Linked DNA regions of Homo sapiens. The protein of the gene in region 1 interacts with the protein of each later gene in a pairwise test. Each region holds a gene or a part of one and is shown in the gene's direction. Other genes may lie near its edges. The genes, in order: CDH1, NEK6, TPX2, MAVS, EPCAM, CRELD2 and DNASE1L1.

Region 1 (4,389 bases):
TTCCAAAATGCTCACCTTGTGTCTGTTACACATTCCCTTCCAAGGTAGCCCCAGATACGCCAGAGGCTGAAGCTCTCGTATCTCCCAGAAGCTGCCCAAACCCTAAAATCCCCGAGAGGCACCTGTCCCAATCCAATCCTTGCTGGGTCTCTTTCTTTCTTTCTTTCTTTCTTTCTTTCTTTCTTTCTTTCTTTCTTTCTTTCTTTCTTTCTTTCTTTCTTTCTTTCTTTCTTTTCTTTTCTTTCTTTTGAGACGGAGTGTCACTCTGTCGCTCAGGCTGGAGTGTAGAGAGGTAGGATCTCAGCTCACTGCAACCCCCGCCTGCCATGTTCAAGTGATTCTCCAGCCTCAGCCTCCTGAGTAGCTGGGATTATAGGCACGCAGAAGCATGCCCAGCTAATTTTTGTATTTTTAGTAGATTCGGGGTTTCACCATGATGTCAGGCTGGTCTTGAACTCCTGAGCTCAAAGTGGTCTACCTGCCTCAGCCTCCCTAAGTGCTGGGATTACAGGCGTGAGCCACCGAGCCGGGCCCCTTCCTGGGTTTCTATCCTGCCTCAGCTCTATCTCCTTTGAGGGCACAAGGCTTTCAAAAAGGAGAATGAAATCATTCAGCAGTGGCTGTTTAGGATCCTTCAGCGAGGAAGTACAGGAAACTAGGTTTGAATTTTAGCCACTAGCTATTTGACTTTGAATAAGTCACTTTACTTCTATGAGTCTCAGTTTCCCCACCTGTAAAATGGGGCGGTAATACTTATTGATCTATTATGAGAATTAAGTATGTACATTCATTTAGTTCACAAAAGTGAGTGCCTGTTGTGTGTTAGCACCAGGCTAGACCCTGAGGTTACGGCAGATTGGACGGAACATACATGCCAATGGGCAGGAATGTAAAGAGAGAAAGTAGAGAGAATATTTTCAACAGTAGTTGATATTTCTTAGGGACACAGTAAACTCTCAATGTTATTTTGAGCAAATGAATGAACACATGAATAAATCGCTATCTTGGCCAATATTTTTCCCTCTCAAACTCTATGGACTTGGTCCAGCCCTTAAGGTTGATTGTAAATGGGCGGGGAAGAATTTGGTGGGTTAGAACCTTCCATTATGCTCTGTGTGTGCTGGGGATACTGTGTTCATAGCTTCCCTCTGAACAGCTGTGCAGGGCAGGCAGGGAGATCTCAAACCTGAGTCTGGAAATGGGAGGGCATATAGCCATTTTTAAGTGTTTTCCACCTTTGGTCAAATAAAAAGAAATCTGTGGTGCATGCTCACTCTTTCTCTCTCTATCCCCATCTCTAGCCATCTCCCTTTCTTTCTCTCTTCCTCTTTGTTAATGTAAGTTTCCCTAGGCCAGGGATCTCAGTGTCCCAGCTTGTTCTTGTTACTCTTGGGGGACTGGGGTTTAGGCCTCCTCCCTTTCTGCACTTTTCATCTTCCTCCTTCCTTCCTCTTACCTGCCTCCAATCCTCCACTTCTGCCCAAGATTTGGGTGGCATCTTCCCCAAATTCAGAAGGTTCTTGAATCAGACTGCCTAGATTTCAATCCAGACAATGTCACTTCCCAGCCTAGGGATGTCAGCCAAGGACTTAGTTTCCCTCTCTGTAAAATGAGCATAATAGCATGGAGACATCATAGGATGGTATGTCAAGCGTTCAGTGAATATGAAATATTAGAGCCCCAGGAGGACTTGGTGCTGTCTGTTTGAAAGTCTCCCATGTTTTACGTTTGGTTCAAAAGATCCCCTGCGCTCCCTCTCACCCAGCAAACCAGCCAAACCAGTTTCTTCACCCTGCCTGCTTCTGTGTTAAGCAAACAGTGCACTGCAAACAGTGACTAAGCCTAGTGCCTTGTTAGGAAGAAACTGGCGTTTTTTTGCTTGCCACTGTGCAGGGTGCTCAGGGTGGACCGGAACGGGTTTGTTGTGGCTTAGGAAAGGGGACCTGCTCGTGGAGGTTGTGTAGAACTGGAGTGGGAGGAGTGGGGCAAGGCGCAGCTAGGGCCGGGGGAGTCGGGATGATCTTGAACTTGTCAGCTTCTGCTTGGCTTTTAAAAGTTATCCAGGCCAGATAGATGCTGTGGCTCACACCTGTAATCCCAGTGCTTTGGGAGGCCAAGGCCGCAGGATTACTTGAGCCCAGGAGTTTGAGACCAGCCTGGGCAACGTGGCGAGACCCCCATCTCTACAAAGATTAAAAAAAAAATTTAGCCAGGTATGGTGGCGTGCACCTGTGGTACTAGCATCAAAAAAATGCAAAAATTTGCTGGGCGTGGTGGCATGTGCATGTAGTCCCAACTACTCAGGAGGCTGAGGTGGGGGGATTGCGTGAAGCCCGGGAGGTCGAGGCTGCAGTAAGCCATGATTGCACCACGGCACTCCAGCTGATAGAGATCCTGTCTCAAAAAAAAAAAAAAAAATATATATATATATGTATATATATATGTATGTGTAATATATGTGTATATATATGTATGTGTATATATATATATATATGTATATATATTTCATGATGCACATGCCTAAGAATACCTGTCTGTTCTCCTGCTGCCAAAAACGCTCTGTCCCAGCCCCTGAGATCCTTGTGGCTAAAAATCAAATCACCTAGGGCACTTCATGCAGACTTGCCCTCTTGCAGATTCACTGAGAGCCAATCTCCAAGGGTGGAGATCTGAACTTGACATTTACTTACTTATTTATTTTTTGGGATGAAGTCTTGCTCTGTCACCCAGGCTGGAGTGCAATGACACGATCTCAGTTCACTGCAACCTCCGCCTCCTGGCTTCAAGCAATTCTCATGCCTCAGCCTCCCAAGTAGCTGGGATTACAGGCATGCACCACTACGCCTGGCAATTTTTTTTGTATTTTTGTAGAGACGGTTTCACCATGTTGGCCAGTCTGGTCTCAAGCTCCTGACCTCAGGTGATCTGCCTGCCTCAACCTCCCAAAGTGCTGGGATCGCACGCGTGAGCCACCACACCCAGCCTTGAATTTGATGTTTTTAAAAGCTCCTCAGGCCAGGTGCGGTGGCTTACGCCTGTAATCTGCACTTTGGGAGGCCAAGGCGGGCAGATCATGAGGTCAGGAGTTTGAGACTAGCTTGACCAACGTGGTGAAACCCCATCTCTACTAAAAATTCAAAAATTCAGCTGGGCGTGGTGGCATGCTCCTGTAATCCCTGCTACTTGGGAGGCTGAGGCAGAAGAACTGCTTGAACACGGGAGGTGGAGGATGCAGTGAGCCGAGATTGTGCCACTGCACCCTAGCCTGGGCAACAGAGCGAGACTCCATCTCTAAATAAATAAAATAAATAAGCAAGCTCCTCAGATATCTGCTGCCACTCAATGCATTTCCCTGGACAATCCCAGGGGCTAGATGTTTGATGAGTAAATACCCCAGCCAGGATGTGGGCACCTGGTTGTCCAGCCCAAGGCCAGGGATCCCAGGTCACACCCTTGATCAGGGAGGGATAGGCTGGTGCTTCTGCCATGCCCAGGATTGAGAACTCTATGGATGCAAGGAGGGGTGGATGGGAGGCTGGGTGCAGTGGCTCATGCCTGTAATCCCAGCACTTTGGGAGGCCAAGGTGGGAGGATCACTTGAGGTCAGGAGTTTAAAACCATCCTGGCCAATATGGTGAAACCCCGTTTCTGCTAAATATAAAAAAAGCTAGCCGGGCGTGGTGGTGCATGCCTGTAATCCCAGCTACTTGGGAGGCCGAGGCAGGAGAATCACTTGAATCTGGGTGGCGGAGGTTGCAATGAGCGGAGATTGTGCCATTGCACTCTAGCCTGGGCAACAGAGCGATACTCCATCTCAACAAACAAACAAACAAACACACCAAAGTGGGGTGGATGGGTGTGGGAGTGGGGGACCCAGAGAAGTATCCAGTGCACCCAGGCCTAAGACTCACCCCCTACACTCAGGGAGATTCCAGAAAATCTCCAAGAGAGACCTCTCAGCAGGTAATTCCAGTAGGCTCCAAGAATGCCACTGGAATGAGAATGTGTTCAGGGGATGCCAGGAGTGGTCAGCTTCACCTGCTGGGCCTTGATGAGTAAGAGGGTGTCTTCCATGCAAGGAAAGGGAAAGGGCACTCCAGGAGGAGGAAGTGGGGTACCCAAAGGTGTGGCAGGGTCATGGAGGCAGAAGGCTGGAGCTGTGCCTTCCTGGGCACAGAAAGAGGAGGGAGGAGAGGGTCCCAGGATGAGGCTGCAGAGGCAGCTGGGCCAGGGTACCTCTGGGCCTTGGGCCGTGGGTCATGGAGGGTTTTCTCTTTCTGGGCTTTTCATAGGCAAATTATTCACCCGGTTAAAAAATAAGTTTAAATATACATCTTCATATATATATGAAAAAGCTTGTATATATGTCTGTATGGCAGACAGTGAAGT
Region 2 (4,389 bases), on another chromosome or scaffold:
GCTGCAAAATCCCATTTGCCCTATAAAGTGTCATTTACAAGTCCCAAAAATTCGGTGATGGATGTCTTTGGGGCCCACCATTGAGTCCCCCATACCCTCTCTCACACTTGGGCATCAGCTATTACCGAGGACCTCCTGTGGCCACCGGAGTTGCTGGCGCTGACCCCAGCTAGTGGGAGCCACCACAAAGCCCCGCACCTGGCCCTCGGGTGGGGCCCCAGCGGAGTGTCTTGAAGAGGCTGGAATCAGGAGTGCTGGCCCGAACATGGAGTGAATCATGACTCGCAGGCCAGGCGGTGGGGAGCCCCCGGTGGGAGCTGGGAGCAACAATGCCCGAGCTTGGGATATCGGAAGGCCGGGCTCTGTTCTCGTTACCTAGATGCCCATGGAGGTGCCCAGCGGGCTGCCCGCTCTGCAGGACTGATTTTTATCTATGTGGGAGCTCAGCTGCAATTACGGAGCTAGAGGAATTGGCTCATTCAGTGCCAGTCCCAGGATCCTCATAGGGGGCCTCCTCGCAGCAGCCTTGAGGTGCCCAGCTGGGACTGAGACCCAGCGAGACAGCGGACTCAAGGGGAAGATCTGCGGAGCCTTGGCCGGGACGCCGCTTTGGAATGCTGCTTGGACGGCAGAGAGGCCTGGACGCCCCTCCGTGGTGGAGGAGCAGGGCTGCAGACCTCCTGGCCTCCAGTCACCCTTCTGTCTGGGATGTGCTCGAGAGACACTGGGTGACAAGATGGGTGTCTGAGGCCCTGACAGGCAGGAGTCAGATTCCCCTTGTCCCTCTGACATCTCAGATCACACACCAGCTTCTCTGAGCCCTCCTGGTGGGGGCCAGGGCCCACCCACCCCCTTTTCCTCGGCTATATGTCACCCTGATGACACCAGAGAGAAGGGCTTGGCATTTGAGGAGCAGCGCTGAGAGCCGTGGCCTCGGCAGTTCTAACGAGGCCCCAGACAGTGAGTCCTCTCTATTTCGACCAGTCAGAGTCTGGGTGGTCACTGGTAGAAGGAGATCTCGCCGTCCAGGGTAATCGTTGTAATCCGCGCAGCCCAGAGCTTTCTTCACAGCCCATTGCCCTGATGAGGGTGGAAGGCCCATGGCCGGCAGCAGAGTGGGGGCAGGCTGGGGCGGATGGAGGAGGCCTGTTCCTGGGGAAGGCCGAGAGGGGTCCTCTGGCATAGCTCACTGCTGACCCCATTCAAAAGGCTTTTCTGAAACGATGTGGAGAAAGTGCTGGAAAGAGCAGAGACATGATGGGAAGTGGATGCCAGCTTGGGGGCTCAATGCTCCCCTCAGCGTTCTGGGGCCTTTGGAGTTCCCAGCAGCGAGGTTTATAAAATTGAGATCAAATGGGCATGATCTGAAGTTGAAGATCGGCTGATTCCTCTCCGGGGTCAGCCACATGAAAAACCAGGGCCTGCGTTCACAGGACCAACACTCAAAATGTCCCTTCTACGCTGCACAGTAACAGTCCAGGAAAATCCACCTTAATCCTCCAGCTGCAACTCGGGGGCACCCAGATCACCCCAGGTGACCGTCCTGGAGTCTCAGCTGCTCTCTGTTATGGCAACAGATGTCCTTTGAAAATGCCCGATTAACCCTTTGCACCCGAGAGTCTCATTTTAATTCCTGGACATGCGTCACCTGGGTGGTGCATTTGGCAGGCTCCCAGCCCGCTCCTGGTCAGGTCAGCAGACCCCAAAATGGGCAGGGCCTCTGCATCCTCACACTTCCCCTGCCTGGCCAGACCCTCCCTGCAGCCCTCCTCCAAGGGTGGGTTTCAGGCTCCACATGGGTTCCCAGCCCTTCTCTGAGGGGCCCAAGCTCCCAGCCAGCCGGAAGACAGAGGTGATGCTGTCCCTAAACACCCACCTGAAGGCACTTGGCCTGGCCTGGGCTCCTGGTCCCGAGGGTGCTGAACCTGGGGCTGAGGAAAGCCCACAGTCTCCAGGCTGCACTCAGCAGCTTCCCCAAAGGCCATCTGCAAACCCAAGGATGGTGCCAGGCTCTGAAGCTCCTCCACGCCCTCCTGAAGGAGGCAGGCCCTTGGGGTCACCAGACCTGTTCATGGACGAACACAGAATGGGGCAAGACCAGGAAACCCAAGCTGACGGGCACCCTCAAACCCTGCTACCAAGGACTCCTCCCCGCTCAGCCTCTGGGGCGCGAGGACAAGCGACGGTTCCCCAGGTATCCCAGGGCCCCTCGGTAGGCGCCCAGGAGCCCTTGGCCAAGAAGCCAGAGCAGGGTGGCCCCTCCGGGGGGGAACCGGGGCCAGACAGCAGGAGGGCACTCGCCCGACGGCACTTCACTAGCCGGAGGCATTGGGCCTCGGGGGGCGGTCCGGGAGGCAGGCAGCCACAGTGAGCTGGAGTGACGAGAAGCTCTTTCCCATTATGGGTTCATAATGGGGCCAGCAGGTGCCACGCTGGGCTGCTGCGCCACCGCCTCAGGGCCACTGTGGCCCCTGCACACCCCCTTGAGGAGTCCCCTGTGAGTGCCCTGAGTGGTGGGGCAGCCTGGCAGCACCCTGACAGCTGAGAACTCACAGGAGGCCACCGCCCCACAGGCCTTTCGCTCCCCCGTGGCTGTGGCCGGCCTTCAGGGCAGAACCGGTGCCGCAGGCCTCACCTCATCAAAGGCGGTCTTGGCCCTGCTGGTGGTGCCTCCTCCGTGTGCCAGCCCAAGCCTCGCCACAGGCCTGTGGGTGGGGACATTTTACAAATGAGGAAACTGAAGTCCAGAGACACAGCGAGTGCAGAGCTGGGGTCGGGACAGAGCTAGGGCTGGCTGTGGAGCCAGGCGCTTCCCTCCCACCCTGAAGGTTCCCTCCAACATGCTGCTGCGCACCTCTATCCAGGGGCAGGAGGCTGCCTCCCTCCCTCCTGAACCCCCTGCTCCCCCTGCCCTGATACCGGCAGCTGGCTTCCACAGGCAGCAGCTCTGCGAGGGGCTGGCAAGAACAGCCACAGTGAAATGCCTCACCCTTCTCCGGCCCACCCCACCCCAAAATGTCAGTCCATAGGTAAGGAAAGCTCTCTGAACATGTGGGGCACAGAGACCTGCCCCTGCAGGCATCTTGGAAAAATCGCGTTTTATGGAAATAAGACCATGCACTCGGCAACCTGCCACATGGAGCCTGGGTCCCCCGGGCTGAGGTGGGAGCAAGGTGGGAATTAGCTTGCAGCGTCCAGCTGCCCTTCTTTATTGCCTTGAAAGTTTTGTCACCGAAACCCTCGTGCCCACTTAATCCAGTGACAGAATCAGGGTAGTGTTGCGCCTGCTCCTCTGTTGAACCCCAGCATGCTCGGTGATTCGGGGGAGAAGTCCTGCTGGACTCGCCGCGGTCGGGACCAGAGAGAACCCATGCCCCAACAATCTGGAGCAGCCTCCTCCTCTCTAGTCCTTCTGAGCCTTGAGGCCGAAAGCTTATCTTCGTTGTTCCCGTCCCTTGCAGATGGCAGCCCTCCAGAGCCCCTTCTATGGAGATAAGATGAATCTCTTCTCCCTGTGCCAGAAGATCGAGCAGTGTGACTACCCCCCACTCCCCGGGGAGCACTACTCCGAGAAGGTGAGTTTGCAGGAGCCGGAGGCCTCGCCAGCCCCAGGAGGCCACCGAGGCTTATGAGGGCCGCTCCAAAACACCACAGCTGTGGGGCTGAGGTTAGGCTCACTTTACACGGTGCAGAAAGGGAGCTTTCTGGAAAAGTGACTTGGAGAGGGGAAAGTAGGTGATTGCACTGAAGAAGGGGTTTCACCACGCAGCTCCAGTGTGGGACCCCCAGGTAGGAACCAGTGGCACGTGGCCCTTGGCACATCTCCACCTGTTCAGCTCCCAACTTGGTGCTCCAGTGGGAGGCCCTCTGCTGCAGGTCCCCAGGACAGGGTCTGTGCCGTGCCAGACATGGGAACTGATACAGGGGCAGGATGTGGCAGGCCTGGCGTCCCCATACCACCAGTGGTGGCCACTCTGCTCCCATGACAGGAAACTACGGCAGGAGGACCGGTCAGTTTCCTCCTTATATAACAGACTTAACACCCTGGGCTTCTACTGTCAACATTTTACACTGGCTGCGGGAGCCGTGGACACAGCTCCCATGGGTCTGGCATGGGGCTGTACCAGTTACTAGGAATGTGTGAATATCTTATTCCTCGGCTCCGTCACCTTGAAGATGGGACTAATAATCTCCTTGGTGGATAATGGTGAGGAAGAAAGGACAGGTTTCCTGGCACAGCAGGGTCAAAAGTGTAGATACATGTTCACACACTCTCTGCACTGTTCCTAGGTGAGTCACCTAACCTCCCTGAGTCTCAGTTTCCTCACCTATACAATGGGGATAATATTAAATCTTCCACACAGGATCAGCATAAGGATTAAGGTAAGG
Region 3 (4,389 bases), on another chromosome or scaffold:
TGCTGGGATTACAGGCATGAGCCACCGTGCCTGGCTCACTGGTACTTTCTTAAAAGTCTGTTCTTGGTCTTAGGGAAAAAAAGGAACTTGGATTGAGACAGAAGATAAAGTAATTGGGCAGACCAGTTTGTTGTTTTCCTATTTTTTTCTAAAGGCAAAGGAAAAGAAAACAGTCAAATCCAATTCACCTGTGGAGGAAAAATATGACTGAGAGAGCTGAAGGGGTCACAGTTCTGCTTTGCTCGGGCATAGAGTTGTTATTGGTGGAGTCATAACTATAAAGTTCTCCTTACTGGATTGAAAAAGCACCCCTGGAGTTTATAGGATTTTCCTCTTAGAGATGCTGAGTTAACTGTGCTTTCAAAGTCAATCCATAGCTTTTCTTATCAAAAGTATTCCAGTTATTCTTTTTCTCCATAGCTATGACCACACCTAGGAGATGGGATTCTTCTACCCTGTGCTACTACTTTTTTTTAGTTTGCATCTGACTGAAAGGCCTCAAACCTAATAGTACTCAGTGAATATGACACATATATTAGTGTCCCTGAGGACTACTTCAAGTTTTGGGTTACAGGTAGATAGTAAGCAAAGTTAGATCCATGGTGACAGAAATAGCAAAAGGACTGGAGTAAAGGGGATTTACTGGTGTTCCCTATCTTAATGTTGTCTGTATGTTTTACTGTGTTCATCTCTCAGGGCAACCTGTGAAGAAATCAGTGAGCCAGGTCACCAAATCAGTTGACTTCCACTTCCGCACAGATGAGCGAATCAAACAACATCCTAAGAACCAGGAGGAATATAAGGAAGTGAACTTTACATCTGAACTACGAAAGCATCCTTCATCTCCTGTAAGTTGATGGACTAAATGAACATTTCTGTTACTAATATTCATTTAGGATTTTACGTGTAGCATTTGTGGTCACTGTTTATAATAGTATAATTGAGAAAAAAAACCTTGTGTCTATAAAGTTGTGTAAAATATAACAGATCTTTTTTTTTTTTTGAGATGGAGTTTCACTTTTGTCGCCCAGGCTGGAGTGCAATGGCACGATTTCGGCTCACTGTAACCTCCGCCTCCCGGGTTCAAGTAATTCTCCTGCCTCAGCCTCCCAAGTAGCTGAGATTACAGGCGCCTGCCACCACTCCCAGCTAATTTTTGTATTTTGTAGAGACAGGGTATCCCCATGTTAGCCAGGCTGGTCTCAAACTCCTGACCTCAGGCGATCCACCTGCCTCAGCCTCCCAAAGTGCTGGGATTACAAGTGTGAGCCATCATGCCTGGCCAATATAACAGATCTTATAGGAAAAATAGGGTTGGGGCAGACCAGTCAAATCTCATGCAGTTTTGTTACCAGAGCACCAACAAAATCAGTAATAATCGTTAAGTAAAAATGCTAGTACTAATAATCTCCACTTGCATTTGTAGTCAGTATCATCATTTTTTGAAATTAGTTATTTGCATTCTTAAACCCTGAGGTTATGCTTCTTTCTTTGAGATACAGGTCCTTGAAGGGTTTTGCTTCCAATTAGAGACCAGTTTTATCAAAATTACTGGTCCAAGGAATAGGAATAGGCTTCTTCATCAGTCTCTTTAGGGGATGTATGGAGAGATTCCACTGATTCAGGAAGCTGCCTGACCTGATGCATACCCAGAGGCCCAATCAATTTTTTTTTTTAAAGTGGAGTTGAGGGTGAGATTTCTTTGCAGTGCTTTTTGTCTTCAATTCTAAGATAGCTTACTCTGGATTCCTTCAAAACATTGACATGGTTGGGGGGAAATTACCTATGTACTATTCCAGAACATAAGATTTGTTAAGTGCTAGATCCTTTCTTCCATTTTTAATTTTTTTTAATGAGAACAGATTAGTTATAACCCTTGCTCAAGGACTGACAAACTTCAGAATAATAATCTTGGTTTTACACAGGCCTTTTTTATTGATCCTCTGTGCCGAATATGTGGCTTATGGTAGATGTGAGCTCTTCCGTGACATTTCATTTGGGGAACAACTTTTCTCTTTACAGGCCCGAGTGACTAAGGGATGTACCATTGTTAAGCCTTTCAACCTGTCCCAAGGAAAGAAAAGAACATTTGATGAAACAGTTTCTACATATGTGCCCCTTGCACAGCAAGTTGAAGACTTCCATAAACGAACCCCTAACAGATATCATTTGAGGAGCAAGAAGGATGATATTAGTAAGTTTCCTACCAGTATCACAGTTGGATGGAACCTCTCCTACATTCCCTCTGCTTACATCTTAGGCACAGATTTGTCTTTAGCTGAAATCCTAGTTTTTCAATTAAAGTATGGCGTGTGACTATGCAGACAACAAATGTATCCTTCAGAATTTTTCAAACCACCCAGCTGTCTGTCTTATACCCATCAACCGTCTTGATCCTCCTCATCAATAATTGGCCAAGGGGAATGAGTTAAGGTAACCTGAGATGTCATTACACATCCTTAACGGACATTTTTTTGCCATGTGTCAAAGTGTCACATTGCATTTAGTTACCTATAGAAAATGAAGGCATTTCATTCATTCAAGGCTATGTGCTTTTTATTCAGTGGTCCACCAAAATTTTTACTACTACTAACCAGGCACACTGTGTTAGGTATATAGAGGTAAATAAAATAGACTTGGTGCTACTCAACATCAGGTTTCTAATTCAAGTTTCAAAACTCGACATCAAGTTTCAAAAGCCTTTACCATAATTTGTAGTGACCTATTTATCTCTGTCATTAGAGATACACTAATTAGTTCTTTGCATTCTTAAACTGTCATTAGATAAACAGGTCACTACAAATTATGGCAGGGGATTTTGAGGAGGAGGGAGGTGCAAGAGTCAAAGGAGGTGGGAGATAGGGAGAGCATGTCTGAATGTTGAGAAGTCTCGTCAGAGATAAAGAAGCTGAAGGTACGAGAGAGAGGAGATAACTAATGGATTAAGTCCCTGAGCAGGCAGGTATTGGAGGGATACTTAGCACAGGTGGAGTGAGTGTTCTTTAAAAGGAGGATGGAAGAGTGGGAGGAATGGGTGCAAATACTGGGGGAGTTTGTAGATTTGGTGGTGAGCAGATGAGCGGATTCTAATGTAATAGTTTCTATCTTTATGGAAATAATTTCTGCAAGAAGGAAGATGAAATCTGAAGGGTGGAGGTGGTATTAAATAGTTGTTGGGAGTATAGGGATAGTATTCTGGATAAAGCAGAATGTGGTTGTTTTACCTTTGAGGATCTCTAAATTTTTTATATCCTTGCATAGGCATTTTTTTTGAGACAGAGTCTCGTTCTGGGTGTCATCACCCAGGCTGGAGTGCAGTGGCGCGATCTCGACTCACTGCAACGTCCACCTCTTGGGTGCAAGAGATTCTCGTGCCTCAGCTTCCCGAGTAGCTGGGATTACAGGTGTGTGCCACCATGCCCAGCTACTTTTTGGATTTTAAGTAGAGACCAAGTTTTGCTCTGTTGGCCAGGCTGGTCTTGAACTCCTGGCCTCAAGTGATCCGCCCGCCTCAACCTCCCAAAGTGCTGTGATTACAGGTGTGAGCCACTGCGCCTGGCCAAGTACAGCATTTTTTAATATTATTATTATGTTCTAGTGGCCAAAATGATTTTGTTAGATTTTATAGTATGAAAATAATGAAATATTCTTCTTTATTCTAATGGAAATTTAAATATTAAGCATAACTTTTCAAATAATATATGACTCAGAGTCTGATATGTCCTGCTTTCAGAATACTAGTCCTGGCAAAAGGAAAGAGAAATTATATTATGCAATTTTTATTTAAAACTTTGTACAGTTACAGCTAAATAATGGTTACATGTATCTTTGAAACATGGCTTATTTCTAAAATAGATTTGGTTTTGATCTACCACTGTTATGTGACAAGACCTAAATTGAAAGATTCATTCTATATTAGTTATGAAAATTGACAAGGTTTCACTGGCCAGGTAAATTAATATTTTCAATGAGTGGTGGTGATGTCTTAATATTGATGCTTTAACATAGTTTTTAACTTTCTCCATTTGATTTTCTGTAAGATGTGGTCTTGATGCTTTTATATTGATTTCATAAAATTGGGAGTTTTCACTTGGTCTTCTTTTGTTATTTATTTATTTATTTATTTTCCTTCTTGTTTTGCTTTTTAGAGACAGGGTCTTGCTCCGTCACCCAGGCTGGAGTGCAGTGGCGTGATCATGGCTCACTTCAGTGTCCAACTCCTGGGCTCAAGCAATCCTCCTGCCTTAGCCTTCCAAGTAATTGGGACTATATATAGGTGCATGCCACCATGCTTACCTAATTTTTATATTTTCTTAGGAGACAGGGTCTCATTATGTTGCCCAGGCTGGTCTTGAGCTCCTGGCCTCAAGCAGTTCTCCTGCTTTGGCC
Region 4 (4,389 bases), on another chromosome or scaffold:
TCAGGCTGGTCTTGAACTCCTGACCTTGTGATCCTCGGCCTTCCAAAGTGCTGGGATTACGGGTGTGAGCTACCGCACCTGGCTATTTTCCTTTTTCTAAAAATCTAGCTCCTGCAGGATTCTGTGGGTTTTTGTTTCTGCTGTCTGGTTGCTTGTTTTTATGTGAGAATTCAGGTAGACATAAAAACTCTAGGGCTGGGCACGGTGGCTCACGCCTGTAATCCCAGCGCTTTGGGAGGCCAAGGCGGGTGGATCACCTGAGGTCAGGAGTTCGAGACCAGCCTGGCCAACATGGCGAAACCATGTCTCTACTAAAAATACAAAAAAATTAGCCGGGTGTGGTGGTGGGCTCCTGTAATCCCAGCTACTCGGGAGGCTGAGGCAGGAGAATCGCTTGAACTCAGGAGGCAGAGGTTGCAGTAAGCTGATATCACGGCACTGCACTCCAGCCTGGGCGACGGAGTGGGACTCCGTCTGAAAAAAAAAAAAAAAAAAGAAACAAAAAAACTCTGCAGCCACTGTCATCTGCCCACAATCTCCCCAGCATTCTCAGCTTCCTTGTTTGTTATTGTCGGCCCCCTCTCTTTCCGTCTTTTGCCCCTTTCATCATACTTTTGCTATCTACCTTTTCCTTCTCTCCTAATCCAAACCTTTCTTTTTGCCCTGGGGGCCATATTAATCCAAGGCTTTTGTATCAGATTAACTGGGTTTGGATTCCTGCCCCACTGTTTTAGGATCTTTGCTACAGTACTTTGCTTCTGCTAAGCCTCAGTTTCCTCATTAGTAAAGTGGAGATAATAATGGCATTAAATAAAGATGATACATGCAAAGCCCTTAATGGAGAGCCCAGGACATAGTTAATTGCCAGTTTCCGGCAGCTGCCTTTATTGATGTGGCTGCTAATTGCTCTTCCTCACTCCATACCTGGCCCTGTCCTGGGCTCCGATCCAGTTTCACGTGGCTGCCTTGCCCTTGTGGCTTTCTTGGCACCCCTCCCCCCGCTGTGGCTTCATTCTGGGTGGGGAAGTGGCAGGGGCCACCTGGCTTGAGCAGGACAGTGGCATTGTGTCTTCCAGGATCGACTGCGGGCCACCTGCACACTCTCAGGGAACCGGGACACCCTCTGGCATCTCTTCAATACCCTTCAGCGGCGGCCCGGCTGGGTGGAGTACTTCATTGCGGCACTGAGGGGCTGTGAGCTAGTTGATCTCGCGGACGAAGTGGCCTCTGTCTACCAGAGCTACCAGCCTCGTGAGCGTCCTGCCCTTGCCCTCCTGGACCCCCAGCCTGCTCCCTGGCCTCCGCTCTCCTTTTCTCTCTCCCTGTACTTCCTGCCTTTCTCTGTCATCCTCTTTCTTGTCACTGTGAAGCGATGAATAAACCTGGGTGTAGATCCAGGCTGAGCCACTTACCAGCTGTGTCCCTTTGGCCAAGTCCCTTAATTTCCCTGAGCCTCAGGCCTCTCTTCTGTAAAATGAAGCTCATGGCAGCATCTGCCGCGGGGAGCTGCAGTGGGTGATACTGCGGGACGATGCGTGTTGAGTATTGAGCTGGGCTGGGCACTTCCTGTATGCCCAGCACATGGAGTCTCCCCTAACTTTCACGGCTGTAGCATTCGCCTCCCACCCTTCCTCATTTCTTCTCCCCCACCTACTCATTCACCCTCCCTCTCTCCTCCTTCTCTTCCCCTCCCCTGGTTTACCCTGAGAGCCTTCGACGCCCTCTATCAGCTGCCCAGTTATTCTTTAAGTCCCTCTCAGTGTCCCTGCCACTCTGAGTGCTCGGAGGCGATTTGATGAGATTGAGTTTGATCCTGAGTGAGATCAAGACATGGGAGGAGGCTGGGCGCGGTGTTTCACACCTGTAATCCCAGCACTTTGGGAGGCCGAGGCAGGCGGATCATGAGGTCAGGAGATGGAGACCACCCTGGCTAAAACAGTGAAACCCCGTCTCTACTAAAAATACAGAAAATTAGCCGGGCATGTTGTCCCAGCTACTCAGGAGGCCGAGGCAGGAGAATCACTTGAACCAGGGAGGCAGAGGTTGCAGTGAGCTGAGATCGCGCCACTGCACTCCAGCCTGGGCGACAGAGTGGGATTCCATCTCAAAAAAAAAAAAAAAAAGACATGGGAAAAAAAATCAAGCCAGCCCTATTTATATTTCAAACTAGAGGTAACCCCCGAGACCCTGGTCACATTTATAGCTGTGGGACATCCATGTTTTTCTTTTCTTTCTCTCTCTTTTTTTTTTTTCCTTTTAGAGACAGAGTCTTGCTGCGCCACCCAGGCTGCAGTGCAGTGGTGCAATCATAGCTCACTGCAGCCTTGACCTCCTGGACTCAAGTGATCCTTCTACCTCAGCCTCCAGAGTAGCTGGGACTACAGGCATGGACAACTACACCTGGCTAATTTTTAAATTTTTTGTAGAGATGACATCTCACTATGTTGCCCAGGCTGGTCTCAAACTCCTGGGCTGAAGCGATCGGCCTCCCAGAGTGCTGGGATCATAGGTGTGAGCCACCGCGTCTGGCTCTCATGCTTGCTTTTCTCTCCTTTTTCCCTTCCTTGCTTTTCCTCCCTCCCTCCCTCCCTTCCTCTCTTCCTTCCTTTTTTTCCTTCCTTCTTTTTAAATATGTCTCTTCATGTGTGGAGATTAATAGTGATCCCTGGCTGGGCACGGTGGCTCACGCCTGTAATCCCAGCACTTTGGGAGGCCGAGGCGGGCGGATCACAAGGTCAGGAGTTCGAGACCAGCCTGGCCAATATGGTGAAACCCTGTCTGTACCAAAAATACAAAAAAATTAGCTGCGCATGGTGGTGCAAGCCTGTAATCCCAGCTACTTGGGAGGCTGAGGCAGGAGAATTGCTTGAACCGGGGAGGTGGAGGTTGCAGTGAGCCGAGATTGCGCCACTGCACTCCAGCCTGGATGACAGAGTGAGACTCCGTCTCCAAAAAAAAAAAACCCAAAAATAGTGATCCCCTGAATACAATGGCTGTGGTAGGGCCTGATGAGGGGTGGGGGCAAAGGGGAGGGGCTCAGGTGGCAGCATCAGGGCAGGGGTCAGTGAGCAATGATAGTCATGTGGAGGAGAAAGCCACTGGGTCCTAGGATGCCTGGGGACAGAGAAGAGTGACTGCTGACACGGCGTGGGTGACTAGAGACCCACGAGGCCCCCCCATACTCCCCTTCCTCCCTTGCTACCTTGTCCTCCATCTGCTCTCACCCTCCCACTCCTGCCCCCTTGCCAAGTGATGCTTGTCACTCCTTTTTTTTTTGAAATGGAGTTTCGCTCTGTCGCCCAGGCTGGAGTGCAGTGGTGCCATCTCAGCTCACTGCAAGCTCCGCCTCCCGGGTTCACGCCATTCTCCTGCCTCAGCCTCCCGAGTAGCTGGGACTACAGGCGCCTGCAACCATGCCCGGCTAACTTTTTGTATTTTTTAGTAGAGATGGGGTTTCACCGTGTTAGCCAGGATGGTCTCGATCTCCTGACCTCGTGATCCACCCGCCTCGGCCTCCCAAAGTGCTGGGATTACAGGCGTGAGCCACCAAGCCCAGCCCTGCTTGTCACTCTTGAGGAGTGGGCCCACATCAGAACAGCTTTTGGACCTATGGGTGGGGCGGGGGGTGTACCCAAGAGCACCCAAGCCTCTTTAATCATGAGGAGAACCCCCAATTCCTTTTTTTTTGAGACAGAGTCTTGCTCAGTCGCCCAGGCTGGAGTGCAGTGGCATGACTTCGGCTCACCACAACCTCTGCCTCCCGGGTTCAAGTGGTTCTCCTTCCTCAGCCTCCCTATAGTCCCTGATTCCTTCTATTTTTTTTTTTTTTTTTTGAGACGGAGTCTCGCTCTTGTTGCCCAGGCTGGAGTGCAATGGTGCAATCTCAGGTCATGGCAACCTTCACTTCCCAGGTTCAAGCAATTCTCCTGCCTCAGCCTCTCGAGTAGCTGGGATTACAGGCATGCGCCTCCACGCCTGGCTAATTTTGTTATTTTTAGTAGAGACAGGGTTTCTCCATGTTGGTCAGGCTGGTCTCGAACTCACGACCTCAGGTGATCCACCCACTTCGGCCTCCCAAAGTGCTGGGATTACAGGCGTGAGCCACCACGTCTGGCTTCTTTTTCTTTTTTTCCCCCGAGACGGAGTCTTGCTCTGTTGCCCAGGCTGGAGTGCAGTGGCGCGATCTCAGCTCACTGCAACCTCCGTCTCCCAGGTTCAAGCAATTCTTCTGCCTCAGCCTCCTGAGTAGCTGGGATTACAGGTGCTTGCCAGCACGCCTGGCTAATTTTTGTATTTTTAGTAGAGACGGGGTTTCACTATGTTGGCCAGGCTGGTCTTGAACTCCTGACCTCCTAATCCACCTGCCTTGGCCTCCCCAAATCCTGGGAT
Region 5 (4,389 bases), on another chromosome or scaffold:
ATCTCCCCTCTTTCTTATAATTCTTATTTATTATCTACTTGGTGGTTACTTAGTTTGTGCATATATGCTCCCCTATGATATTTATAATTTACACAAATAAAAGTCTGTTAAAAAAGACTGTAACTGATATGATTAAAATATTTTGTTGAAACTTTAATATATTATAGTGAGGTATTTTCTGCTGAAATATGAGGTTTGCTTCAAAATAATCTGGGCGGGGGTGAAAGGATGAAAGGAAGAAAAGATGAAGTAAGAGAGGCTATGTGTTGTTGGCCTTGCATCTGGGTGATAGGTACATGGGCATCATTGCACTACTCTTTCTACTTTCGTGTATGTTGAAAGGTTCCTGTAATAAACAGTTTTTTAAAGTTCCAATAAATTAGATTGTTATCACTAAAACCATAAAGATTCTTGGCAGCGGTTCTTTTGGCATACAATTTGTATGTAATTATATGTGGCCATGGTTGGTTTCCTTAAATATTTTTAATTCCTTTTCTCCTTTTCAATACAGGTTAAAGGTGAATCCTTGTTTCATTCTAAGAAAATGGACCTGACAGTAAATGGGGAACAACTGGATCTGGATCCTGGTCAAACTTTAATTTATTATGTTGATGAAAAAGCACCTGAATTCTCAATGCAGGGTCTAAAAGCTGGTGTTATTGCTGTTATTGTGGTTGTGGTGATAGCAGTTGTTGCTGGAATTGTTGTGCTGGTGAGTACAGAACAAGTAAAATTTCATTTAAGGGTATATTTTTTCAAGAAAAAGTAATAGTGGCTGGGCGCGGTGGCTCACCACACCTGTTATCCCTACACTTTGGGAGGCTGAGACAGGTGGATCACTTGAGCCCAGGAGTTTGAGACCACACTGGGCAACATGGTGAAACCTTATCTGTAGTAAAAATACAAAAATTAGTCAGATGTGATGGCTTGCACCTGTGGTCCCATCTACTTAGGAGGCTGATGTGGGAGTGGTCAGTTGAGTCCAGGAGGTCAAAGCTGCAGTGAGCCATGATCACACCACTGCACTCCAGCCTGGGCAACACAGCAGGACCCTGTCTCAAAAAGAAGAAAAAAGGAAATATGAAAAAGTAACATCCATATTCCAAAACATTCAGGGAAAAAAATCTTCATTTTTAAATAATTTTTTTATGGTGAATGAATCTATTGTATCTCTGGTCTCTTTTTACAAAAGTCATTTTATGAAGCAAGAAAGGATGCTAATATTAAAAAGCTTGTGGCTGTGCACCTCACAGGCCAGTTAAATTGCCATCTAGCAGCAAGCGTCTTTCAGTTGTCACTGCAAACAATTCAACACCTAGTGCAAAATACCTGAACCCCCAAACCACTCAATAAGATGGAACAACAGAACACAAAGTTAACGTTAGCCATACAAAAGAGTTAAAAGTGATATGTGAATCAATACTTCCAAGTAAAGATGAGCAAATTGAATTTAACAGTGCTTCAGCAAAAGAATGTATTGCTTGAAGAAGTGAAAGGTTTATTTTAGGAATGTAAGGATGCTTCGGTATCAAGAAATCTTACTAACACTGGCCAGGTGTGATGGCTCAGGCCTGTAATCGCAGCACTTTGGAAGGCTGAGGCGGGTAGATCACTTGAGATCAGAAGTTCGAGACCAGCCTGGCCAACATGGTGAAACCCTGTCTCTACTGAACATACAAAAAAATTAGCTGGGCGTGGTGGCACATGCCTGTAATCTATTCGGGAGGCTGAGGCAGGAGAATAGCTTGAACCTGGGAAGCAGAGGTTGTAGTGCGCCAAGATCATGCCACTGCACTCTAATCTGGGTGACAGAGCAAGACTCTGTCTCAAAAAAAAAAAAAAAAAAAAAAAAAAAAAGGCCAGGCACAGTGGCTCATGCCTGTAATCCCAGCACTTTGGGAGGCTGAGGCGGGTGGATCACCCGAGGTCGGGAGTTCGAGACCAGCCTGACCAACGTGGAGAAACCCCATCTCTACTAAAAATACAAAATTATCCGGGCATGGTGTCTCATGCCTGTAATCCCAGCTACTCAGGAGGCTGAGGCAGGAGAATCACTTGAACCCAGGAGGTGGAGGTTGCAGCTGAGATCATGCCATTGCACTCCAGCCTGAGCAACAAGAGTGAAACTCCGTCTCAAAAAAAAAAAAAAAAAAAAGAAATCTTACTAACACAACAGAATTCAGAAAGAGGTTTGAGGGTATTTAGGAACTTAGATTTCCAGTTCAATCAACCATGTTTGGCTATCCATCTGGAACAAAATGAAAGTTGAATTCCTATTTCACTCCACCAGGCTGGCCATATTGCCCAGCTGTGTGAGGGTGGCATGTCCAGAGCACAGTAGTAGGAAAGGCGTTGGGCAGTGTATCCATTTTCAAAGACATTTACATATTTAAAAATACAAAAAAGTAAACTCCCAAGAAAATTAATTGAGGGAATGTTTGTACAACCTTGTGGTAGGGGAAATTATGTAAGGCAAGAAATCTGGAATCCATGAAAGAAAAGATACATATATGTGTATGTATATTTTGAGAGAGGGTCTTGCTGTGTCACCCAGGCTGGAGTGCAGTAGCATGATCATAACTCACTGCAACCTCCAATTCCTGGACTTAAGTAATCCTCCTGACCTATCCTCCCAAGTAGCAAGGACTACAGGTATGTGCCACTATACCTGGCTAATTTTTTAATTTTTAGTAGAGACGAATTCTTGCTATGGCTGCCGAGGCTGGGCTTGAACTCCTAGGCTCAAGCAGTTCTTTTGGCTTAGCCTCCCAAACTGCTGGGATTACAGGCATGAGCCATTGCACCTAGTCCTATATATATATATTTTGGCTTCATTAAAATTAAGCATTTTATATGGCAAAGAAACTGTAAAGTAAAAAATAACGATGGGCATGAAAAAAATATGGCGCATAAAGCAAAAATGGATATTATACATAATATACAAAGAGTTCTTACAAATTGATGAGGAAACCTAAAGAAAGAATGACAACAGGTAGGGATAGACAGTTAATAGAAATTTCAGATGGCAAATGAACACAAGTGGTTAATGCTGGAAGTCTAATTGTTCTGTAGAAATAAATGAAAACACAAGTGCAATAAGGAAGCACATTGTTATTGTATCATAGCATTGCTTGTAAAGGTGAATCTGGCCAGGCGTGGTGGCTTACGCCTATAATCCCAGCACTTTGGGAGGCTGAGGTGGGCAGATCACCTGAGGCTGGGAGTCCGAGACCAGCCTGACCAACACGGAGAAACCCCGTCTCTACTAAAAATACAAAATGAGCCAGGCATGGTGGTGCATGCCTGTCATTCTGGCTACTCAGGAGGCTGAGGCAGGAGAGTCACTTGAACCCAGGAGGCAGAGGTTGTAGTGAGCCGAGATCATGTCATTGCACTCCAGCCTGGGCAACGAGAGCAAAACTCTGTCTCAAAAAATGAATAAAAACAACAACAAAAGTGAATCTGGAAAATAGCCTGAGTGTGTATCAGTAAGAGAGTAAATTATGTTTATTGTATCTACGATAGGGAATAATGTGAATGGTGAATGAGTTCGATCTTTATCTTTGGATCTGGAATGGTTGCTATGATGTTGATACAAGCTGTGCACAGGTGGTGATGATACTGCATGGTCCCATTTTTAGACCCCAAAACTTAGATGCATGTGTTTATATATGATATTTGTATTAGTGTGGAAAAGGAGGATGTGGAAGAATGCACACCAAACTGTTAAATTTCTTTCTTTTTTTTTTTTGGAATGGAGTCTCGCTGGCCGGACGTGGTGGCTCACTGCTGTAATCCCAGCACTTTGGGAGGCCAAGGCAGCTGGGTCACGAGGTCAGGAGATCGAGGCCATCCTGGCTAACACGGTGAAACCCTGTCTCTACTAAAAATACAAAAAATTAGCCAGGTGTGGTGGCGGGCACCTGTAATCCCAGCTACTTGGGAGGCTGAGGCAGGAGAATGGCGTGAACCTGGGAGGCGGAGCTTGCAGTGAGCCGAGATTGCACCACTGCACTCCAGCCTGGGTGACAGAGCGAGACTCCATCTGAAAAAAAAAAAAAAAAGAAAAGGAGTCTCTCTGTGTTGCCCTGGCTGGAGTGCAGTGTCATGATCTCGGCTCACTGCAGCCTCCACCTGCCGGGTTCAATTGATTCTCCTGCCTCACCCTCCCGAGTAGCCGGGACTACATGCAGAAGCCACCATGTCCAGCTAATTTTTGTATTTTTTGGTAGAGACAGGGTTTCACCATATTGGCCAGGCTGGTCTCGAACTCATCACCTCGTGATCCGCCTGCCTCGGCCTCTCAAAGTGCTAGGATTACAGGCATGAGCCACTGTGCCCGGCTTCTTCTTTTTTTTTTTTTTTTTTTTTTTTTTTTTTTTTTTTTTT
Region 6 (4,091 bases), on another chromosome or scaffold:
CGGAGATGGGAGCAGACAGGGCGACGGGTCCTGCCGGTGCCACATGGGGTACCAGGGCCCGCTGTGCACTGACTGCATGGACGGCTACTTCAGCTCGCTCCGGAACGAGACCCACAGCATCTGCACAGGTACGGGCTACGCCTGGGCTGGCCCCGGGGTTGAGGCGGGATGACAAGAGCCCCTTGCTGGAGCTGCCTGCCTAGATGGGAACAGGGGCCTGTTGATCTTTAACCCCAGATGTCCAAGGAAGCTTCGAGGGCCCAGAAGGATGAATGAAAACATCAGAGGATAGAGGCAGAGGTTGTCGGGCACTTCCTGTCCCGTAACAGCCCTCAGAAGGGAGAAGCTACTCACCTTTCTCTCTAGTTCAAGGTCCACCCCGACCTTGAGTTGTGATGGGCCATGCAGTGCACAGGTCCTGGAGGTGCCGTGTGGGCCCCGCACCGGCCCAGAGAGCAGCATCTGTCAAATCCCTGCAGGCCGTTATGAGTGGCATCTTTCCAAAGGACGTTTTCTCCCTGGTTGTCACTGATATGTAGGAAAACTCTGAGTGTCTCGGACGTGAGTGTGTGGTTGGCCGGCAGCCCCTAGGCTATTCTGGGCAGACAGACCCGTGGATCGATAGTCAGGACCGGCCTCTCCGATTCTTACGCCCCTCAGCAGTCAGGACCGGCCTCTCCGATTCTTACCCGCCTTGCTGTCTGTCTCTTGGATGTTGGCGTGGCGTGGGCCACGCATGGATCCGTGGCCGGAACACGCACACCCAGCCAGGCTACAGCTCCAGAGTATGGATAGCTGCCTTCTCTCCAGGTTATTAAAAATTCCTTGGAGTCCTGGTTTGCTGAGAATTTTAAATTCATGGGCACTGAAAATCCCGTGTTGCTTTTCCCTCTTAAATTCCTCACTTTTAAACGAGCCTTGTCCCCAAGCTGGTACCTGAGAGTGGGGTTTGTACCCAGGCCCGCCTTTGCCTTCCAGCCTGTGACGAGTCCTGCAAGACGTGCTCGGGCCTGACCAACAGAGACTGCGGCGAGTGTGAAGTGGGCTGGGTGCTGGACGAGGGCGCCTGTGTGGGTGAGGAGCGGCCCGGGGGTGGAGGAGGGCGCCTGCGTGAGGCGTGGGGGGTGTGAGATGGGGGCGTAAGGCGTGGGGGGTGTGAGGCATGGGGGCGGGAGGCAGGGGGGCGTGAAGTGTGGGGGCGTGAGGTGGGGGCGTGAGGTGTGGGGCTTGGGGTGTGGGGGGCGTGAGGTGTGGGGGAGCATGAGGTGGGGCGTGAGGTGTGGGGGCGTGAGGTGGGGGCGTGAGGTGTGGGGGCACTCACTGTCTCACTCTCACACAATGTGTCGCCATCCTCATGGGGCGCCTGCCCCGGTTGGCACTGAGTGTCTAAGGACAGGGCCTGGCCATCGCCTCATCCCCTCCCCTGCCGCGTGGGGCCTCCGAGGATGGCATTTGAGATGATTCCTCCTCAGGGGCTGCCCTCCTCCCTGCCCTTCCCCAGCCGGCCCTGGCCACGGGCTGTGTCAGGCCATGATCGGTCCTTCCCCGCTCCCTGGCCGGGCTGTCCTGGGCCGCTCACAGCTGTGCCGCTCTGTTCCAGATGTGGACGAGTGTGCGGCCGAGCCGCCTCCCTGCAGCGCTGCGCAGTTCTGTAAGAACGCCAACGGCTCCTACACGTGCGAAGGTGGGCCAGGCGGGCGGGTCTGCACTCCGGGGCCTGCCGGGTTTCGTTGCTGCCTTTGTCAACATTCATTTATGGCTTCTTAGTGTCACTTCCATACATCCTGCCTGCCCTGAGAACACTTAGTGTGGCAAAGTAAGTCATAGGTATTTGCTGCAGGAAAATCAGAAAATTCAAGTCAGATGAAAAGAAAACAGTTAAAAACCCAGGAACTCCCTGGAGAGCGCACCCTGCTGGTGCCTCCACTGCTCGTGCCCCCCCAGCGCCCCCGCAACGTGCCCTGCGTGACTTTCCGCAGCGCCTGTCGGGTGTTTTCCACTCAGCAGCTTGTTGCGAACGTCTCTGCGTCCTGTGGTTTCTCTGTCACGCTAATGATTTTGGAGCCATTATTTCATACTTTTACAACAATGTCTGTTGCTGGACGTTTACGTCATAACAGTTTTTCAACTTATAAACTGTGAACACTTGAAGGTAAACTTTTCACATTCCTTATGATTTTCTGTGGATTAATTTCCAAATCGCTCAGTCAAGGGAATGTGTCTTTTAGAGCCATAGTGCCCCAGAAAAGTTGTGCTGATCCCCAGTCCCAGCAGCAGGGAGGAGGCCGCCTCTGCCCCGTGTGTGTGACAGCCCCAGGCAGTTTTCACTGTTGGGAGTGCAGACAGTGGGTCCCTCAGTGAGCCACTAATACTGGAAGCCATGCGAGAGGCTCTGGTTATTCTTAGGAAGCTCCTGGCAGGCTGGCAAACCAATGGTCACCGAGCTGGAGGTGGGTTTGTTTCTAGAATCTCTGTAGCACCCAGTTTCTCCCAAAGAGTTCCAAGCCAGGTGGTCTGCACCATGGCTCTCCGGGAGCACCTGCTGCACAGCAGGACGCGAGTCTGTGCTTTTGCCGGGAGACAGAGACAGATCGTTATAAAGTCACTTGGTGATGAATGAGGAGAAAACCCAAATCCTGGCGGCACCGGTGCCTTGTGCATGTCGGGGTCTGACGGGCACTGGTGCCTTGTGCATGTCGGGGTCTGACGCTGGCTCCCTGTTGCAGAGTGTGACTCCAGCTGTGTGGGCTGCACAGGGGAAGGCCCAGGAAACTGTAAAGAGTGTATCTCTGGCTACGCGAGGGAGCACGGACAGTGTGCAGGTCAGTGACGGGGTCTGTGCTGGACGCTGGTGGACCCTTCCCAAGTGACCATGATGTGAATGGCCCCAGCAGGTACTGCCAGGGATGGGAAGCAGTTGAGACCCGTCCTGCAGACGTGGCTCCCCCAGGGTCACTGTGCACTCGCCCTGAGGTCCACGTGAGACACAGAAGCAGTGGGGGTGGGGGACGGGCTCTGCATGGCCGACCCTGGTGTGGATGGCGCTGCTGCACCAGCCTCTCGCCGGTGGCCTCGTTCCCCAGGTCCACCGCCTCTGCTCTCCCTCCAGCTCCTGGGTGGCGATTGCCCCGAGGCTTAAGTCCAGGCCTGCCATGGTTGTGGGCTGCCTGGGTGAGCCTGGGCGTGGATGGAACCCGGTGGAGAAAGTGGGTTTCCTGGGCAGGCGCCATGGTTCATGCCTGTAATCCAGCACTTTGGGAGGCTGAGGCGGGGGGATCACGAGGTCAGGAGATCGAGACCATCCTGGCTAACACGGTGAAACCCCATCTCTACTAAAAATACAAAAAATTAGTCGGGCGTGGTGGCGGGCGCCTGTAGTCCCAGCTACTCGGGGGGCTGAGGCAGCAGAATGGCGTGAACCCGGGAGGCGGAGCTTGCAGTGAGAGGAGATCGCGCCACCGCACTCCAGCCTGGGCGACAGAGCGAGACTCCGCCTCAAAAAAAAAAAAAAAAGGAAAAGAAAGTGGGCTTCCTGGGCGCATGCTGGCCTTCCGGCCCCACCTGGAGGTCTCTTCTCTGCATTTTCTACCAGTTGAGGGCCCAACTTGGAGACGTGAAATTCTTCCCTCTCGAAGCCTTTCCTGATCTTTGCTCCTTTCTGTAACGTGACGTTTGTCATCGTTGTGCTTTCTTTATGTGAATGAATCTGAATGAATGAATTTCATAATCCGCTGCGCGTCTGCTGAGCAAAGTAATTATTAAAACGGAGTCTTTTCATTTTAGATGTGGACGAGTGCTCACTAGCAGAAAAAACCTGTGTGAGGAAAAACGAAAACTGCTACAATACTCCAGGGAGCTACGTCTGTGTGTGTCCTGACGGCTTCGAAGAAACGGAAGATGCCTGTGTGCCGCCGGCAGAGGCTGGTGAGTGGCACGGCTGCCCTCCACACAGGCTGCCCTCCCCTGGGCCGCAGGGCTTGCACGTAGACTGGCTGCTTGGTCTGAAATCCACACAGATGGTGGCCTTGAGATGGTGAGAGGGGGATTCCCGGAAGACAGGTGCATGACATCTCTGTGTGGGCACGCTTGCG
Region 7 (3,648 bases), on another chromosome or scaffold:
ATTCAGGAGGCTGCAGTGAGCTGTGATGGCACCATTGCACTCCAGTCTGGGCGACAGAGCAAGACTTTGTCCCAAATAAATAAACAATAAAAGAATAAGCTTGACCGCTTGTGCACTGTTGGCGAGAACGTAAAATGGTGCAGTCACCATGGAGACCAATATGACACTTCCTCAGAAAATTAAAACTAGAACTACCATATGATCCAGCAATTCCACTTCTGGGTATATACCCAAAAGAACTGAAAGCAGGGGCTGGGCGCTCTGGCTCACGCCTGTAATCCCAGCACTTTGAGAGGCCGAGGCGGGCAGATCACGAGGTCAAGAGATGCATGAGGCTGGGGCACCAGGGCTCATTCCTGCAATCCCAGCACTTTAGCAGGCTGAGGCAGGAGAATTGCTTGAGCCCAGGAGTTCAAGACCAGCCTGGGCAACATAGTGAGACCTTGTCTCTATTTAAAAAAAAAAAAAAAAAAAAAAAAGGACACGGTGGCTCACACCTGTAATCCCAGCACTTTGGGAGGCCAAGGTGGGCAGTTCACCTGAGGTCAGGAGTTCGAGACCAGCCTGACCAACATGAAGAAACCCCATCTCTACTAAAAATACAAAATTAGCTGGGCGTGGTGGAGCGTGCCTGTAGTCCCAGCTATTTGGGAGGCTGAGGCAGGAGAATCGCTTGAACCTGGGAGGCAGAGGTTGCAGTAAGCCGAGATCGCACCATTGCACTCCAGCCCGGGCAGCAAGAGCGAAACTCCGTCTCAAAAAAAAAAAAAAAAAACCAGATGGATGGATGAATGAATGAATGAACAAAATGTGGTCTACCCAGATGCCCAGACAATGGAATATGATTCAGCCATGAAAAGGAAAGAAATTCTACAGCCGGGTGCGGTGGCTCACGCCTGTAATCCCAGCATTTTGGGAGGCCGAGGCGGGCAGATCACGAGGTCAGGAGATCAAGACCATTCTGGCTAACATGGTGAAACCCCATCTCTACTAAAAATACAAAAAATTAGCCGGGCGTGTGGCAGGCACCTGTAGTCCCAGCTACTCGGGAGGCTGAGGCAGGAGAATGGCGTGAACCCAGGAGGCGGAGCTTGCAGTGAGCCGCGTTTGCGCCACTGCACTCCAGCCTGGGCGACAGAGTGAGACTCCGTCTCAAAAAAAAAAAAAAAATTCTGACATATGCTCCAACATGAATGACCCTTGAGGACATTTTGCTCAGTGAAATGAGCCAGTCACAAAAAGACAAATACTGTAGGATTTCACTTTTTTTTGAGACGGAGTCTTATTGTCGCCCAGGCTGGAGTGCAGTGGTGCGATCTTGGCTTGATCTTCACAGAGCAAGACTCTGTCTCAAAAACAATTTTTTTTTTTGGAGACAGAGTCTCACTCTGTCACCCAGGCTGGAGTGCAGTGGTATGATCTCGGGAGGTCACTGGGAGGCTGGTGCTGGGCAGCAGCTAGTGCCACTTTCTCTGTTCCATATTTCAGCGCTTCCAGAGCCAGAACTGAGCCCAGTGAGAGCGCACCCTGGGGCAGCCTGGATTCCTGGGGTGTCCCCGGCAGCCACACACAGCCATGCACTACCCAACTGCACTCCTCTTCCTCATCCTGGCCAATGGGGCCCAGGCCTTTCGCATCTGCGCCTTCAATGCCCAGCGGCTGACACTGGCCAAGGTGGCCAGGGAGCAGGTGATGGACACCTTAGTTCGGGTAAGTTCATCACTTCAGGGAAGCCGTGCCCCTAACCACCATGAGCCAAAGCCCCCATCCCTGCCTGACCAGGGGTATGTTCTAGAGAAGAGGGGAGAAGAAGAGGTGTGGCACGGAGATGCAGCGCAGGCGCTTGCCTGCTGCTGGCCTCAGTCTCCTCCTCTGTGAAACAGGTGACATGTGGGTGGGATGAGTCTTTTCCTGGGGCATTTCCAGTCCCACTGCTTTCTGTGGGCTGCAGTCAGTGAGCCTTAACACTCTGGGCCACAACAGTGCCAGTCCCCTGGGCCCACTGCCTCCTCTCAGGGCAGTTGGCACTGAGTCAGGCTGGCCTTCCTGATGTCCCACAGATACTGGCTCGCTGTGACATCATGGTGCTGCAGGAGGTGGTGGACTCTTCCGGCAGCGCCATCCCGCTCCTGCTTCGAGAACTCAATCGGTGAGGAAGATTCTGTGGGTCTAATCAGGGGCACACCCAGAGGCTTGAGGCCCTGACCCCGCCTCCCCTTTTCTTGGCAGATTTGATGGCTCTGGGCCCTACAGCACCCTGAGCAGCCCCCAGCTGGGGCGCAGCACCTACATGGAGACGTATGTGTACTTCTATCGGTGAGCACGGAGCTGGCAGCGCAGCAGGGTGGGGGGCGGTCCTTGGCCCTAATGTGAGGTAGGCTCATTAGTCCCCGGGGCCACAGGCCCCCCATCCTGGGACAGCCTCACCTGCTTTGCATGCTTTCTCTTCTCAACACCTTTTATTCTGGGCTCTTCCCATCCTCGACCCCCGCCAGAGTGTCCATAGAGCAGGAGGCCTTCCTTCTATAAGCACAAATGTGGGGTCCCTCCTCCTCTCTCCTGTGGGAGCTGCTGGGGCTCAGGGTGTGGCTGGCCCCCTCTATGAAAGTGGCCAGCAAGGGCTGCAGCTCCTGGGAAGAGGCTCCGTGGGGACCACTTATGGGCCTTGGGTAGACCCGATCTTCTAAGTCCCTGGGAGGACAGGCTGGCAGGGAGCCCTTTGGAGTCAGGATCCAGAGGGCAAGGGAGGCTGCAGGGAAGGAGAACTGATTCTCTATATAAATAAAATGATATGACATCTGGTATGCGCTCCAAAATTACTGGGTAGGCAGGGTACAGTGGCTCATGCCTGTAATCCCAACGCTTTGGGAGGCTGAAGCAGCAGGATCACTTGAACCCAAGAGTTCAAGGCTGCAGTGAGCTATGATTGTGCCAGTGCACTGCAGCCTGAGCAACAGAGTGAGACCATGTCTCAAAAAAAAAAAAAAAAAAAAAAAGAATGACATCAAAGTGTCCAAATGTCAAAATGTACTATACCCAGTCCGTGGAATATTATTCAGCCAGAAAGAGGAATGAAGCACAGACGTGCCACAGCATATGGACGAACGCAGAAAACATTGATGAGCTGATTTCATTCATATGAAATATCCAGAATAGGCAAATGTACAAGATAGAGAACAGATTAATGGTTGCAGGGGCTGGGGGGAGGGGAGAATGGAGAGTAACTGGTAATGGATGTTATGTTTTTATTAGGAGTAATGGATACCAATGTTTTAAAATTGATTGTAGAAATAGTTGCACAGCCTTATGAATGTACAAAAGAACCGTGTTGTATACTTGAAGCAGGTGAATTTTATGGCATATGAATTATGCCTGATTTTTGAAAGTTCTAGAGACAGGTTGGGAGGGCTGTGCCCACATTGCCGCTGTTAGTGGAGGGCCCCTCCCTGAGCGCCGTTTGGCACTTGCAAGCCAAAATCAAAGACGTGGGGCCACTGCTGCCCATCCCTTTGTCCTCCCAGGTCACACAAAACACAGGTCCTGAGTTCCTACGTGTACAACGATGAGGATGACGTCTTTGCCCGGGAGCCATTTGTGGCCCAGTTCTCTTTGCCCAGCAATGGTAGGAAGGGAAGGGTGGGCTTGGTA

The links.
Region 2: the proteins of CDH1 (region 1) and NEK6 interact in binary tests that used the Homo sapiens proteins (3 or more experiments, as listed by UniProt).
Region 3: the proteins of CDH1 (region 1) and TPX2 interact in binary tests that used the Homo sapiens proteins (3 or more experiments, as listed by UniProt).
Region 4: the proteins of CDH1 (region 1) and MAVS interact in binary tests that used the Homo sapiens proteins (3 or more experiments, as listed by UniProt).
Region 5: the proteins of CDH1 (region 1) and EPCAM interact in binary tests that used the Homo sapiens proteins (3 or more experiments, as listed by UniProt).
Region 6: the proteins of CDH1 (region 1) and CRELD2 interact in binary tests that used the Homo sapiens proteins (3 or more experiments, as listed by UniProt).
Region 7: the proteins of CDH1 (region 1) and DNASE1L1 interact in binary tests that used the Homo sapiens proteins (3 or more experiments, as listed by UniProt).

What each region holds. Positions count from the first base shown.
Region 1 is NC_000016.10:68,743,133-68,747,521, forward strand, and holds part of CDH1 (cadherin-1 isoform 1 preproprotein), read left to right. Parts: intron 1-4,389.
Region 2 is NC_000009.12:124,344,248-124,348,636, forward strand, and holds part of NEK6 (serine/threonine-protein kinase Nek6), read left to right. Parts: exon of another isoform or gene 1-3,455; intron 3,456-3,461; coding exon 3,462-3,575; intron 3,576-4,389. UniProt on the Homo sapiens protein: Protein kinase which plays an important role in mitotic cell cycle progression. Required for chromosome segregation at metaphase-anaphase transition, robust mitotic spindle formation and cytokinesis.
Region 3 is NC_000020.11:31,776,791-31,781,179, forward strand, and holds part of TPX2 (targeting protein for Xklp2), read left to right. Parts: intron 1-696; coding exon 697-848; intron 849-2,022; coding exon 2,023-2,194; intron 2,195-4,389. UniProt on the Homo sapiens protein: Spindle assembly factor required for normal assembly of mitotic spindles. Required for normal assembly of microtubules during apoptosis. Required for chromatin and/or kinetochore dependent microtubule nucleation.
Region 4 is NC_000020.11:3,856,559-3,860,947, forward strand, and holds part of MAVS (mitochondrial antiviral-signaling protein), read left to right. Parts: intron 1-1,076; coding exon 1,077-1,251; intron 1,252-2,260; exon of another isoform or gene 2,261-2,384; intron 2,385-4,389.
Region 5 is NC_000002.12:47,379,258-47,383,646, forward strand, and holds part of EPCAM (epithelial cell adhesion molecule precursor), read left to right. Parts: intron 1-511; coding exon 512-712; intron 713-4,389.
Region 6 is NC_000022.11:49,921,634-49,925,724, forward strand, and holds part of CRELD2 (protein disulfide isomerase CRELD2 isoform b precursor), read left to right. Parts: coding exon 1-128; intron 129-237; coding exon of another isoform or gene 238-272; exon of another isoform or gene 273-361; intron 362-660; coding exon of another isoform or gene 661-810; intron 811-978; coding exon 979-1,074; intron 1,075-1,600; coding exon 1,601-1,684; exon of another isoform or gene 1,685-1,827; intron 1,828-2,726; coding exon 2,727-2,822; intron 2,823-3,783; coding exon 3,784-3,924; coding exon of another isoform or gene 3,925-4,037; exon of another isoform or gene 4,038-4,091. UniProt on the Homo sapiens protein: Protein disulfide isomerase. Might play a role in the unfolded protein response. May regulate transport of alpha4-beta2 neuronal acetylcholine receptor.
Region 7 is NC_000023.11:154,403,496-154,407,143, reverse strand, and holds part of DNASE1L1 (deoxyribonuclease-1-like 1 precursor), read left to right. Parts: intron 1-1,488; 5' UTR 1,489-1,575; coding exon 1,576-1,710; intron 1,711-2,060; coding exon 2,061-2,149; intron 2,150-2,229; coding exon 2,230-2,316; intron 2,317-3,521; coding exon 3,522-3,622; intron 3,623-3,648.